Homo sapiens: one gene and its partners. The protein of the gene in region 1 purifies or fractionates together with the protein of each later gene. This does not show direct contact. Each region holds a gene or a part of one and is shown in the gene's direction. Other genes may lie near its edges.

Region 1 (3,900 bases):
TAAGTGCTTTGAATAAGAATAAAGCAGAGTAAGTGGGGGGAGGAGTGCTATTTTATACATGGTATGTCTGATAAGGTGATATTTGAGTAGAGACCTGGGGTAAGGGAGCCAGCTATGCAGTAGTAAGGCATAGTGAGATAAGTAAGACAGAGAAAGCATCAGGTGGAAAAGCCCCCTAGTAGGAGTGTGCCGGATATCTTCAAGTCACAGAAGGAGGCCACTGTGGCCAGTATTCAGTGAACAAAGGTATAGCCATAAGAGGTGAGATCAGAGGGGGACTGGAGGCCCCCATCATGTAGGGCCTTATTAGGACACAAGAACAGCTCACCTTTACCTGAATGAGATGGGAGCCTTTGGAAGGTTTTGAATAGACATATAACATGATTTTGATTTAAATTGTACAGTAATCTCTCAGGCTGTTATGTGGAGAATAAAGTAGGTGCGCAAAGATAGATCTGGGAGACTAGGTGTCTACTGCAATAGTTCAAGCAAGAAATGATAGTAGCTATGAAAGTAATCAGTAAGAATGGGTGAGAATCTGACTATATTTTCCTTAAATATGTTAAACAAGAAGGTTGATAACACTGAATCATCCAGTCAGTGGATGAGCCATTCCACTAGAGTGGGTAAATTATTTTCCAGTTTTTTGTTCATGGTCGGTAAAAACAAGCCTCTGATTTTTGCCTGTTTTTTTGCCCATAGGTACCAGCATGTGTTACATAGAAATCTCATTTATTTGGCTACCATTGCAGATGCCAGTCCAACCAGCACTTCAAAAGCAATGGAATAATCTTTCAAAAGCAATAGAATAATCTTCCATTTGGCTGTCGTGAGGAGTAATTGAATGTAATCCATCTCTTACAAAATGGAGACAGGGTCTTTACCAACTCAACTGGTTAAAACATGAATGAAACCTCTGTGGCTCTTTCGAAACGTGAAAATGTGAAGAAAGCTACTAACTTAGCTGTATTCTCATGTAAATATTTTTTAAATAATTAAGCAAATCCCTCAATAAGTTGAGCCCAGGTGTCCTCTTTCCTGAACTTGGAGCATGTTTGGATAACAAAGACATCACTGGGATGTTCAAGTCTACTTTTTAGTTTCAACCTGAAGAGGAAACTCAGTAGGTGTTGGGCAGGAATTGGTGAGATTCCTGACTTGATACCTTGCTAAATGGACATGTAACTGTGTGCTCCTTCCTATCAGTTTGTAAATGTGGTCCCCCTGACTGCTGTTTTCAGATTGCTTTGAAATAAAGCTTATTTTTCTATAAAATACTGATGTGGAGGTATAGAAGTTTTCATGTAATAAGTATTCCATTTGGTTTTCAAGAATAACTGTGAGGACTTAACCATAAAGTATATAAAAACAATACTATTATCATTGCCAACAAAATGAATAGTGATTTCTAATTATTATCTAATATCATCTGATAATAGATGATGTTTAATTTTCTTCAGTTATCAGATAGTCTTTTTGTTGATTTGTCTGAACCAGAATCCAAATAAGATTCACATGTTGTATTTTGTTGATGTTCCTTTAAGTCACTTAAAGAATACTTAATAGTTCCTTTTTTTCTTTATTTGTTGAAATAACTAGGTGTTTACCCTAGAATTCTCTCGTGTTCTACATACAGTTGTATCTCTGTAGTGTTGTTAATTATGTGCCACTATCATCCACTTTTCCTGTAAACTAGTAGATCTAGAGGCTCATGCAGACTCATGTTCTAATATTTTTAGCAGGAATATATTAGAAGGTGATAAGTACTTGCTTTTGCATCACATAAGGAGTGACCTGACTTTTAAGTTCCCAACCAGCCTTTCACTTAAATTATGATCCACCCAGCTTTGATGTGGTAATTCATTAGGGATTACATAATGAGGATTTTCTAATTTATCATTCTTTCTGACTTTATTAGCTGTATTCTATAAAAAACTTTCACTCTTGGAGATTTATCTGAAAGATGAGGCAAAGGGATTCTTGTAAGTATATCCAAAATTAGAAGCCCAGGTCCCTGCTCCTTTTTTTGGAGTCAAGGGTTGCAACCTAGGGCAACTGTAAAATACATGTAAATAGTGAAGAGATAACTCATTTTGAATCCCAGCTCTATCCCTTAACCTCTGAAAGCTCTGTTTCCTCACCTCTAAAGTGAGGATAATGAAAATAGCATCTGCCTCCTGAGGTTGTGAGACTGAGATAACGTGGTTGAGAACTGGGCACATGTTAATCTATGTTAGCACTAATGTGCTGAGGGCTCTGGCTCTTTCTTTTTTCTTTTTCTTCTTTTTTTTGGTTTTGTTTTGTTTTGTTTTTGTTTTTGTTTTTTTTTGAGACGGAATCTCGCTCTGTCGGAGTGCAGTGGTGCAATTTTGGCTCACTGCAACCTCTACCTCCTGGGTTCAAGTGATTCTCCTGCCTCAGCCTCCCAAGTAGCTGGGATTACAGGCATGTGGCACCATGCCTGGCTAATTTTGGTATTTTTAGTAGAGACGGGGTTTCTCCATGTTGGTCAGGCTGGTCTCGTACTCACGACCTCAGGTGATCCACCTGCCTCAGCCTCCTAGAGTGCTGGGATTACAGGCGTAAGCCACCGCGCCCAGCCGATCATTTCTGTTTTCTAGAAAATTATTTTGTCTGTTTCCCCACTAGCATTCCTGATGGTTTTCCAGAGTCCTATCCCCTGAAGTTCTAATTGCTGGCATAATCACACTCTAAAAGGCTGAACCCCAGAATCATTACCTGAAAATTCGTACTACCAGTGGTTCTTCTTCATGATAAATCATGGACAAATTAAGCCTGAGTTTGTAAACTCTTTGGATACCAACTTTCTACCACTCTTGGAAGAGATGGAGGAGGTGTCAGTCATTTTGGTTGATACTAGCCCTAGGCCTGCCTTGTCCCAGGAGTTTCTTCACCTTAATCACAGACCAAATTGCATACTTTTATCTTCGAATCATCTAAAATATAATTTCAAATCACAAGACAGAATAAAATAATCTTTGAGAGAGGCAGAACCTTAGAAAGGAGATATTTTATCTCATTTATTTTACAGATGAAGAAAGTAAACTTCAGAGAGATCAAAGTGATTTGTCTCAGGTCACATAACCAGTGGCAGAAAGAAGAGAATTGCTGGAATGTCAAGATAAGAATGAATTCTAGGTTTAAAGTTGTTTAAGTATATCCCAAATTAAATATTTCATTCCTGAGCTCTAAAACCTATTTACATTGAAGCCTGATGTCCTAAACACGGTAATTACAAAGCTGGGTAATGGTCTCCATCCTTTCCTTTCATGAATCCATGTATGAAAGTTAGCTTTATCAAACTATTTCATCTCCAGAAAGGCATGTACATTTCATACTGTTCAAGTCTGTAATTGTCAGCAAAATCAGACCCAAGACCGCTAGCTTCTCAATTCAGCCTACAGACTGCTCCTCTAATAGACACACTGGACTCTCAGGGAGGTAGAATGGGCAAGCTCTAACAAAGGACAGCACTTCTGTGATGGTGTGGAAGTACCAAAGGTTTGACTGTACTTTAAAAAGGTGACATGGACGGCTGGGTGCAGTGACTCATGCCTGTAATCCCAGCACTTTGGGAGGCCAACGCGGGCAGATCACAAGGTCAGGAGATCGAGACCAGCCTGACCAACATGGTGAAACCCTGTCTCTACTAAAAATACAAAAAAATTAGCCAGGTGTGGTGGCGTGTGCCTGTAGTCTCAGCTACACTGGAGGCTGAGGCAGGGGAATCGCTTGATCTCAGGAGGCAGAGGTTGCAGTGAGCCAAGATCGTGCCACTGCACTCCAACCTGGGCGACGGAGCGAGACTTTGTCTCAAAAAAAAAAAAAAAAAGGTGACATAGGTGCAGAAACAGGTCAGAAATGATCTAAGTCAAGCTT
Region 2 (3,500 bases), on another chromosome or scaffold:
ATGAGCCTTGGGTGGGTTTCTCCTCAGCCCTAGTGACCCCTAAAATTACCCCCCCGACCCACCCACTGTCCCCTGATGCTTCCCCCACCCCCGGAAAAAGCTGTGGCCTCCCTCTCATTTGGGGCAGGCTGCCTCCTGTTCTCTTTTTCTGGTGTTTCAGCAAGGCAGGCCAGTGGAGGTGAGGTGACCAGAAGATGGCTAAAGGGAAAACAAAATGGTGGGCCTCTTTTTGGGAAACTGGGCCAGGGTTTGGGGGCCCTGTGCTGGTGGAGGAGAGAAGACCCCAGGGCGATGGTAGGAGACGAAAGCTTGGGCTGCAGCGTAAGCTTGGAGGCCCGCTGCGGTGGCTCACGCCTGTAATCCCAGAGCTTTGGGAGGCTGAGACAGGAGGATTGCTTGAGCCCAGGAGTTTGAGACCAGCCTGGGTCTCAAACCAAAAAAAAAGAAAAAGAAAAAAAAGAGCCGGGCGCGGTGGCTCACGCCTGTAATTTCAGCACTCTGGGAGGCCGGGCAGGCGGATCACGAGGTCAGGAGATCAAGACCATCCTGGCAAACATGGTGAAACCCCGTCTCTACTAAAAAAATACAAAAAAATTAGCCAGGCGTGGTGGCGGGCGCCTGTAGTCCCAGCTACTTGGGAGGCTGAGGCAGGAGAATGGCGGGAACCCAGGAGGTGGAGCTTGCAGTGAGCGGAGATTGCGCCACCGCACTCCAGCCTGGGCAACAGAGCGAGACTCCATCTCAAAAAAAAAAAAGAAGAAGAAGAAAAAAGAAAAATTAGTCTGGACGCAGTGGCTCATGCCTGTAATCCCAGCACTTTGGGAGGCCGAGGCAGGCAGGTCACCTGAAGTCAGGAGTTGGAAACCAGCCTGGCCAACATGGTGAAACCCTGTCTCTACTAAAAATACAAAAAATTAGCTGGATGTGGTGGTACACGCCTGTAATCCCAGCTACTCTTAAGGCTGAGGCAGGAAAATTGCTTGAACCTGGGAGGCGCAGGTTGCAGTAAGCCGAGATCGCGCCACTGCACTCCAGCCTGAGCAACAGAGCAAGACTCCATCTCAAAAAAAAAAAAAAAAAAAAAAGAAGAAAGAAAAGAGAAAAGGCCGGGCACGTTGGCTCACACCTGTAATCCCAGCACTTTAGGAGGCCGAGGAGGGAGGATCACGAGGTCAGGAGATCGAGACCATCCTGGCTAACAGTGAAACCCCATCTCTACTAAAAATACAAAAAATTAGCCGGGAGTGGTGGCAGGCGCCTATAGTCCCACCTACTTGGGAGGATGAGGCAGGAGAATGGCATGAACCCACGAGGCAGAGCTTGCAGTGAGCCAAGATTGCACCACTGTACTCCAGCCTGGGCGACAGAGCGAGACTCCGTCTCAAAAAAAAAAAAAAAAAAAGAAAAAAATTAGACAGGCATGGTGACCCTCGTCTGTAATCCCAGCTACTCAGGAGGCTAAGCCTGGAGGATCACTTGAGCCCAGGAGGTTGAGGCTGCAGTGAGCTACGATTGTGCCACTGTACTCTAGCCTGGGTGACAGGGTGAGACCTTGTCTCAAAAAACAAACAAAAAAAGTAGGCTTAGGCCCAGGACCCCTTAGCACCTGGTCTGAGGGTTCCCTCAATGACTTGCTGTGAGGACTGAGAAAGGTCTGTGCCTGAAGAGCTCCCGTCTGTCCCAGGAGAGGTAGAGGTTTGGGCCTGAGGCCTCCCTCACCTCAGCTCCTCCAGAGGTTTCATCATGGAGACATTCCTACTGGGCACATGGCAGGTCAGGCAGACCTGGGCCTAGCTAGGGTGAGGCCAGCCATGGGCCAGGCCTCTTGAGGTGACAGGGACTAGCCATGAGGAGTGAGTACAAGGACAGGGAGTAGAGCTTTCCTGGAGGGAGTCAGCAGGGTCCCCTTGAGTGGTGGGTAACCCTAAGATGGTCTTGTTGGCTAACCCTTGGACCTGGACACAGGAGAACATTCGAAATTGGCCTTAGCCTGGAGAATCTGGGATGGATTCTTGTAGTTTATATAGGAGTCCGTGCTGGGGAGGAGCAGTTGGGGCTATATTCCTACTGCTGGGACCTCATTTTTTCCTTTCCTCCCAGAAGCTCAAGTGTAATGGGAAGGGAAAGGTGTTGAAGTCAGGGTAAGGTGACGGGGCCGCCAAGACAGGAGGCGCGGGGCACACCCAGGGCCAGCTTTGCAGCAAGTTGGGCTGCAGCCTGGTGGTTGTGGGGATTTCTGCACCTGGTGCTTACAGGTGTCAAGAGTGAGGGCATCTGAGGGGGGCCAGAGAGCCCATCTGGGGCAAGCTGTCGCTCCCTGGGGCATGTGGGCCCAGGTCATGTTTTCAAGAGTAGCCAGAAGTCTGGATTCTTATGCAAAGCCTGTTTTGTTGTTTGTTTGTTTGTTTGTTTGAAGTTTGGCAGCAGATTTAACATTTTTAAAGTACTGTGCAGGCCAAACAAAACACGCCTGTTGACTGGTTGTTTGCCATCCTAAATATAAAGTGGGGCCCATGTGTGGTGGCTCACACCTGTAATCCCAGCATTTTGGGAGGCCAAGGCAGGAAGATCACTTGAGCCCAGGAGGTCGAGGCTGCAGTGAGCAGTGATCGCACCACCGCACTCCAGCCTGGGCAACAGAGGGAGACCTTATCTCAAAAAAATAACAAATAGGCTGGGCACAGTGGCTTATACCTGTAATTCCAGCACTTTGGGAGGCCAAGGCGGGTGGGTCACCTGAGGTCAAGAGTTTGATGTCAGCCTGGCCAACATGGTGAAACCCGTCTCTACTAAAAATACAAAAATTAGCCGGGCGTGGTGGCATGTGCTTGTAGTCCCAGCTACTCAGGAGGCTGAGGCAGGAGAATCGCTTGAACCCGGGAGGCGGAGGTTGCAGTGAGCCGAGATTGTGCCACTGCACTCCAGCCTGGGCCACAGAGCAGGAGTCCGTCTCAAAAAAATAAAAAAAATAAAAAAATAAGAAAGTGATGAGTATAGCTTAATACCCTCATTGGGGAAGAGGAGCAACGCCCTTTTTTGGGGAGGGGTATGTGTTCTGTGGTGATGGTTTTGGGGGGCAATTGTGGGAAACCTCAGCTGCTCCGCTGAACCCGTGTGCCCACCCAGTGTGTCTGTGGCTGTGAAATCCCATGTCCTCCTGGGTGCTCACTTGGTGCCTTAAACTTGAGCTCCATGGCCCCTCCGGGTGGCTGCTTAGCTGAGCATAGGTCCAGCTCAGAGGTAGAATTCTTAATGTTCTTGCCTCTGTCCCAGAGTCCCCTCAATGTCCACACCTAGAAATACAGTTTCTCATCACTGGGGTAACTTGAGAACTCGGTGAAGAGGTTGCCAGTTGGGGCAAAGAGAGGCACGAAAGCCTGGCTGCATTCAGCTTGTAGCCTGCGGTGGCCTCGAGCCTCGCTGGGAAGCAGCTGCAAACTTGCATCTTGGCTGATTTGCGGCCGCAAAGCCCAGATCTCTGGCACACTTTCTGCCCTGAA
Region 3 (3,500 bases), on another chromosome or scaffold:
GTTTTTTCTAAGACAAATATTGTAGAAGAAGTAATATTTTGGTATGAAGTTTCTGTTTAACCCCCCGACCCCAATTTTATTTAAAACATTTTTTAAATAAGTCATTTTATTCACATAGTATGATCATCAGAAAGTTTTTTTTTCTTTTTTTCCAGAGACAGGGTCTTGCTCTGTTGCCCAGGCTGGTCTTGAACTCCTGGGCTCAAGCAGTCCTCCTGCCTTGGCCTCCGAGAGTGCTGGGATTACAGGCATGAGCCACTGAGCCTGGCCTAATTTATTTTTATTTATTTTTTCTGAGACTGAGTCTCTCTCTGTCGCCCAGGCTGGAGTGCAGTGGCAAGATCTTGGCTCACTGCAAGCTACGCCTGCTGGGTTCAAGCAGTTCTCCCTGCCTCAGCCTCCGGAGTAGCTGGGATTACAGGTGCACACCATCCCGCCCTGCTAATTTCTGTATTTTTAGTAGAGACAGGGTTTCGCCATGTTGGCCAGGCTGGTCTTGAACTCCTGACCTCAGGTGATCCGCCTGCCTGGCCTCCCAAAGTACTGGGATTATTATAGGCGTGAGCCACCACGCCTGGCCACCTGGCCTAATTTTTGTATCCCTTTCCAGTTCTTCGTGTATATACAACCTAGTGCAAATATGGTTTACGTTTCTCTCCCATTTGTACCCAAAGGGGAGCTCATTATGTACTTACTGTGGCAGCAACAGTGAGTTTGCTTGTTTTCTGTTAGAGTCTTGAAGTATTCCTTTGTACAGAAGAGCCACAGTTCATTTCCCCAGGAAATGCCATATTGATGCACTTTAGACCATATCCAGATTTTGGCGTTCTACACGAAGCTGCAGGAAACAACTTGTTCACCTGTTTTGTTTTTGTTTTTGTTTTTGAGACAGAGTTTCGCTCTTTTTGCCCAGGCTGGAGTGCAATGGCGTGATACTGGCTCACTGCAACCTCCGCCTCCCAGGTTCAAGCAATTCTCCTGACTCAGCCTCCCTAGTAGCTGGGATTACAGGTGCACGCCACCATGCCCAGCTAATTTTTGTATTTTTAATAGAGACGGGGTTTCACCATGTTGGCCAGGCTGGTCTCAAACTCCTGACCTCAGGTGATCCACCCGCCTCAGCCTCCCAAAGTGCTGGGATTACAGGTGTGAGCCACCGCGCCCGGCCTACTTGTTCACCTGTTATTTCCCACATATGCAGGTCTGTTTACTTCCTGGAAGCCTGTTTGCTGGACTAAAGCAAATGTGCATTTATAACTTGGATAGCTACTGCTGAATTGCGTTCCTCTTGAGTTGTAGCAAATTGTGCCAGTTGAGACCCCTAAGGGCAGTATATACAAGCATCTTTACTAGACATAGGCTTTATTCCTAATGCGACGGGTGGTAAATGGTACCCTAGGGTGAAAAATAGTGCCCTGGGGTGCGTTTTGCTGTGCATTTCTCTTATTACAAGTGAGGTTGAGTAGCTCTGAAAATACTTAAGCCTTTTGTCTTTCCTTTTCTGTGCACTGTCTGATCATATCCTTTGCCCCTTTTTCACCAGTTGTAATTCTTAGTGATTTCTAGAGTCTCTCTATATATGAGAGAGATGAACTTTGTATTTGGAGTTGCAACTGTTTTCCCCAGTAAGTCATTTGGCATGTGACTTAATTTGTGGATTGTGTGTGTGTGTGTGTGTGTGCGCACTTTTGATGAGAATGAAATTAAATTTTTTTAATTTTTTGGTATCTTTAAGCTTTTTATGTTTAAATGACTTCAAACACATAAAAAGTTTCAGAATTAGTACAGAGAGCTCATAGGAGTTCTTTACTCCTCAACTAGATGTATTAGTTATCTATTGCTATGCAGGAAATTACCCTCAAAACTTAGCAGCTTCAAACAGCAAGTATTCACGTGTCTCACACTGTTTCTAAACATTAGGAATCTGAAAGCAGCTTAGCTAGGAGGTTCTAGCTCTGGATCTCCCATGAAGTTGTGGTCATCTGAAGGTCCCACTGATCTGGAGAACCTGCTCCCACGCTCACTTGTGTGGCTATTAGCAGGAGGCCTCAATTGCTTCCTCAGTGGGCCTCTCCAAAGGGCAGCACATGACACACAGCGGTTGGCTTCCCGCAAAGTGAGTGACCCAATAGAAACAGACAGAATGCTCAGGATGGGAGCCGCAGGCTTTTTATAACTAATCTTGGAAGTGTCATATAATCACTTCTGCCAAATTCTATTGGCCACAAAGACCAGCATATGGGAGGGGACTGAACACAAGGAGGTGAGGATTGTTGGTGGCTGCCTCCCACGTCTACCCATTGTCAGCCTTTTGCTACATCTGCCTTGACCTTAGCATTCTCATTCTGTGTACACTTTTTTCTGAATCAGTTGAGAGTAAGTTGCAACCATTATACCCGTTTGCCCCTTAATATTTTATTTTATTTATTTATGTATTTATTTATTTTTGAGTCTGAGTCTCACTCTGTCGCCTAGTCTGGAGTGCAGTGGTACAATCTTGGCTCACTGTAGCCTCTGCCTCCCAGGTTCAAGCAATTCTCTTGCCTCAGCCTCCTGAGTGGCCGGGATTACAGGCACACATCGCACCCTGCTAATTTTTGTGTTTTTAGTACAGATGGGGTTTCACCATGTTGACTAGGCTGGTCTCAAACTCCTGGGCTCAAGTGATCCACCTGCCTTGGCCTCCCAAAGTGCTGGGATTGCAAGCGTGAGCCACCGCGGCCAGCCTACCCCTTAATATTTTAGTATAATATTTCAGCCTTGGAGAACAAGGACATTCTCTTACTTAACCATCATACTGCAAAGAAATAAAGCAGACAGCATTGACATGATACTGTTGTCATATCCTCTGTCCATAATCCAACTTTACCAGGTGCCCAGGGATCCTGTAATGTTGTATTATTCTCCTATTTCATGTAGCATTGGAGTGCCGCTGCATGTGGGCCACCTCCCTGAGCCCTTGGAACCTACTGAGTGGGCCAGTTCTCTTTTCTCCGACTCAGCGACGCACCTGCCATTGGCCATTTGAGTCATTTCTCCTTTTCCTCTATTGTAAATGCTCCCAAAGTGGGCAACCCCATAGCAAGTACTTGAATATTCTTTTTTTTTTTTGAGACGGAGTTTCACTCTTGTGCCCAGGCTGGAGTGCAGTGGCGCGATCTCATTTCACTACAACCTCCGCCTCCTGGGTTCAAGCAATTCTCCAGCCTCAGTCTCCTGAGTAACTGGGATTACAGGTGCATGCCACCATGCCCGGCTAATTATTTTTGTATTTTTAGTAGAGACAGGGTTTCATCATATTGATCAGGCTGGTCTCGAACTCCTGACCTCTGGTTATCTGCCCGCCTCAGCCTCCCAAAGTGCTGGGATTACAGGCGTGAGCCACCGTGCCCGGCCGAATATTCTTCATCACAGATTCCTGGAGGGGAATTTCCAGGTCAAAGTTGTGACCCTTTCAAAGTCCCCAGACCAAGCTGCCTTCCAGGAGGCAGTCCCACCAG
Region 4 (3,902 bases), on another chromosome or scaffold:
GAGACTTGTGCTGGAGACCCTCTGTAAACTCAGTATCCAGGACAATAATGTGGACCTGATCTTGGCCACTCCTCCATTTAGTCGTCAGGAGAAATTCTATGCTACATTAGTTAGGTACGTTGGGGATCGCAAAAACCCAGTCTGTCGAGAAATGTCCATGGCGCTTTTATCGAACCTTGCCCAAGGGGACGCACTAGCAGCAAGGGCCATAGCTGTGCAGAAAGGAAGCATTGGAAACTTGATAAGCTTCCTAGAGGATGGGGTCACGATGGCCCAGTACCAGCAGAGCCAGCACAACCTCATGCACATGCAGCCCCCGCCCCTGGAACCACCTAGCGTAGACATGATGTGCAGGGCGGCCAAGGCTTTGCTAGCCATGGCCAGAGTGGACGAAAACCGCTCGGAATTCCTTTTGCACGAGGGCCGGTTGCTGGATATCTCGATATCAGCTGTCCTGAACTCTCTGGTTGCATCTGTCATCTGTGATGTACTGTTTCAGATTGGGCAGTTATGACATAAGTGAGAAGGCAAGCATGTGTGAGTGAAGATTAGAGGGTCACATATAACTGGCTGTTTTCTGTTCTTGTTTATCCAGCGTAGGAAGAAGGAAAAGAAAATCTTTGCTCCTCTGCCCCATTCACTATTTACCAATTGGGAATTAAAGAAATAATTAATTTGAACAGTTATGAAATTAATATTTGCTGTCTGTGTGTATAAGTACATCCTTTGGGGTTTTTTTTTTCTCTTTTTTTTAACCAAAGTTGCTGTCTAGTGCATTCAAAGGTCACTTTTTGTTCTTCACAGATCTTTTTAATGTTCTTTCCCATGTTGTATTGCATTTTTGGGGGAAGCAAATTGACTTTAAAGAAAAAAGTTGTGGCAAAAGATGCTAAGATGCGAAAATTTCACCACACTGAGTCAAAAAGGTGAAAAATTATCCATTTCCTATGCGTTTTACTCCTCAGAGAATGAAAAAAACTGCATCCCATCACCCAAAGTTCTGTGCAATAGAAATTTCTACAGATACAGGTATAGGGGCTCAAGGAGGTATGTCGGTCAGTAGTCAAAACTATGAAATGATACTGGTTTCTCCACAGGAATATGGTTCCATTAGGCTGGGAGCAAAAACAATGTTTTTTAAGATTGAGAATACATACCTGACAACGATCCGGAAACTGCTCCTCACCACTCCCGTCATGCCTGCTGTCGGCGTTTGACCTTCCACGTGACAGTTCTTCACAATTCCTTTCATCATTTTTTAAATATTTTTTTTACTGCCTATGGGCTGTGATGTATATAGAAGTTGTACATTAAACATACCCTCATTTTTTTCTTTTCTTTTTTTTTTTTTTTTTTAGTACAAAGTTTTAGTTTCTTTTTCATGATGTGGTAACTACGAAGTGATGGTAGATTTAAATAATTTTTTATTTTTATTTTATATATTTTTTCATTAGGGCCATATCTCCAAAAAAAGAAAGAAAAAATACAAAAAACAAAAACAAAAAAAAAAGAGGGTAATGTACAAGTTTCTGTATGTATAAAGTCATGCTCGATTTCAGGAGAGCAGCTGATCACAATTTGCTTCATGAATCAAGGTGTGGAAATGGTTATATATGGATTGATTTAGAAAATGGTTACCAGTACAGTCAAAAAAGAGAAAATGAAAAAAATACAACTAAAAGGAAGAAACACAACTTCAAAGATTTTTCAGTGATGAGAATCCACATTTGTATTTCAAGATAATGTAGTTTAAAAAAAAAAAAAAGAAAAAAACTTGATGTAAATTCCTCCTTTTCCTCTGGCTTAATGAATATCATTTATTCAGTATAAAATCTTTATATGTTCCACATGTTAAGAATAAATGTACATTAAATCTTGTTAAGCACTGTGATGGGTGTTCTTGAATACTGTTCTAGTTTCCTTAAAGTGGTTTCCTAGTAATCAAGTTATTTACAAGAAATAGGGGAATGCAGCAGTGTATTCACATTATAAAACCCTACATTTGGAAGAGACCTTTAGGGGTTACCTACTTTAGAGTGGGGAGCAACAGTTTGATTTTCTCAAATTACTTAGCTAATTAGTCTTTCTTTGAAGCAATTAACTCTAACGACATTGAGGTATGATCATTTTCAGTATTTATGGGAGGTGGCTGCTGACCCACTTGAGGTGAGATCTCAGAAGCTTAACTGGCCTGAAAATGTAACATTCTGCCTTTTACTAACTCCATCTTAGTTTAATCAAAGTTCAATCTATTCCTTGTTTCTTCTGTGTGCCTCAGAGTTATTTTGCATTTAGTTTACTCCACCGTGTATAATATTTATACTGTGCAATGTTAAAAAAGAATCTGTTATATTGTATGTGGTGTACATAGTGCAAAGTGATGATTTCTATTTCAGGGCATATTATGGTTCTCATATTCCTTCCTACCTGGTGCACAGTAGCTTTTTAATACTAGTCACTTCTAATTTAAACTTTCTCTTCCTGGGTCATTGACTGTTACTGTGTAATAATCGATTTCTTTGAAACTGCTGCATAATTATGCTGTTAGTGGACCTCTACCTCTTCTCTTCCCTCTCCCAATCACAGTATACTCAGAATCCCCAGCCCCTCGCATACATTGTGTCGGTTCACATTACTCACAGTAATATATGGAAGAGTTAGACAAGAACATGCAGTTACAGTCATTGTGAGACGTGACTCTCCAGTGTCACGAGGAAAAAAATCATCTTTTCTGCAAACAGTCTCTCATCTGTCAACTCCCACATTACTGAGTCAAACAGTCTTCTTACATAACAATGCAACCAAATATATGTTGAATTAAAGACCCATTTATAATTCTGCTTTAAATACATCTGCTTGCTAAGAACAGATTTCAGTGCTCCAAGCTTCAAATATGGAGATTTGTAAGAGGGAATTCAATATTATTCTAATTTCTCTCTTACAGAGTACAAATAAAAGGTGTATACAAACTCCGAACATATCCAGTATTCCAATTCCTTTGTCAATCAGAAGAGTAAAATAATTAACAAAAGACTGTTGTTATGGTTTGCATTGTAACCGATACGCAGAGTCTGACCGTTGGGCAACAAGTTTTTCTATCCTGATGCGCAACACAGTCTCTAGAGACTAATCCAGGAAGACTTTAGCCTCCTTTCCATATTCTCACCCCCGAATCAAGATTTACAGAAGCCCACGAAGAATTTACAGCCTGCTTGAGATCATCTTGCCTATAAACTGAGTTATTGCTTTGTCCTAAAAATTAGTCGGTTTTTTTTTTTCTATGAGGCTTTTCAGAAATTTACAGGATGCCCAGACTTTACATGTGTACCAAAAAAAAAAAAAAGATAAAAAATAAAGGTGCAAAGAAAGTTTAGTATTTTGGAATGGTGCTATAAAGTTGAATCTGTTGGTATTTGAGTGGATTTTTTTAATGTCACATAAGAGATACTGGGCGGCGTCTGCTCAGCAATAGCTATTCACAGTGTTTTGTTCGAGGAAGAGAATGATATAGAAGCATGTTTTACTGATGAAGGTGGCCTGTTCAAAGACTAGTTAAGCTGTTTTTTCAGAGTTATAATGAAGAATGATTTTTTTAAGGGCATATGGGCAGTCTCATACAATGTAAGCTATTAACTACCTCCTTTATGAAAAGAAGCCAGCCTTTGCCCTGAAGTCCATCCATTTAAAACTGTTGGAAATCTTTCATTTCCTATCAAACCACATGTACCTGTTCCCATGTCTGTTCACCTTTGAGGAAGCAAAGAAAGTATTATAAATGAGCCACAAATGGACAGTGCAAACAGTCCCTGTTCTTCTTGCTGAGTGTTGGTTCACTTCTTTATTTCGAGGGCCGTGGCCCAGCTGCCTGAAGTCCTGCTCAGCACCAGCCTAGAAGAACTTGG

Evidence for each region. The genes of interacting proteins can lie anywhere in the genome.
Region 2: the proteins of SS18L2 (region 1) and BCL7A purify together in Homo sapiens (co-immunoprecipitation; 2 studies listed by BioGRID and IntAct, with this or other methods). This does not show direct contact.
Region 3: the proteins of SS18L2 (region 1) and BICRA purify together in Homo sapiens (affinity purification with mass spectrometry; one large-scale study listed by BioGRID and IntAct). This does not show direct contact.
Region 4: the proteins of SS18L2 (region 1) and ARID1B purify together in Homo sapiens (affinity purification with mass spectrometry; one large-scale study listed by BioGRID and IntAct). This does not show direct contact.

Annotation. Positions count from the first base shown.
Region 1 is NC_000003.12:42,593,720-42,597,619, forward strand, and holds the end of SS18L2 (SS18-like protein 2), read left to right. Parts: intron 1-702; coding exon 703-790; 3' UTR 791-3,215; downstream 3,216-3,900.
Region 2 is NC_000012.12:122,024,884-122,028,383, forward strand, and holds part of BCL7A (B-cell CLL/lymphoma 7 protein family member A), read left to right. Parts: intron 1-3,500.
Region 3 is NC_000019.10:47,689,134-47,692,633, forward strand, and holds part of BICRA (BRD4-interacting chromatin-remodeling complex-associated protein), read left to right. Parts: intron 1-3,500. UniProt on the Homo sapiens protein: Component of SWI/SNF chromatin remodeling subcomplex GBAF that carries out key enzymatic activities, changing chromatin structure by altering DNA-histone contacts within a nucleosome in an ATP-dependent manner.
Region 4 is NC_000006.12:157,207,378-157,211,279, forward strand, and holds the end of ARID1B (AT-rich interactive domain-containing protein 1B), read left to right. Parts: coding exon 1-514; 3' UTR 515-3,402; downstream 3,403-3,902. UniProt on the Homo sapiens protein: Involved in transcriptional activation and repression of select genes by chromatin remodeling (alteration of DNA-nucleosome topology).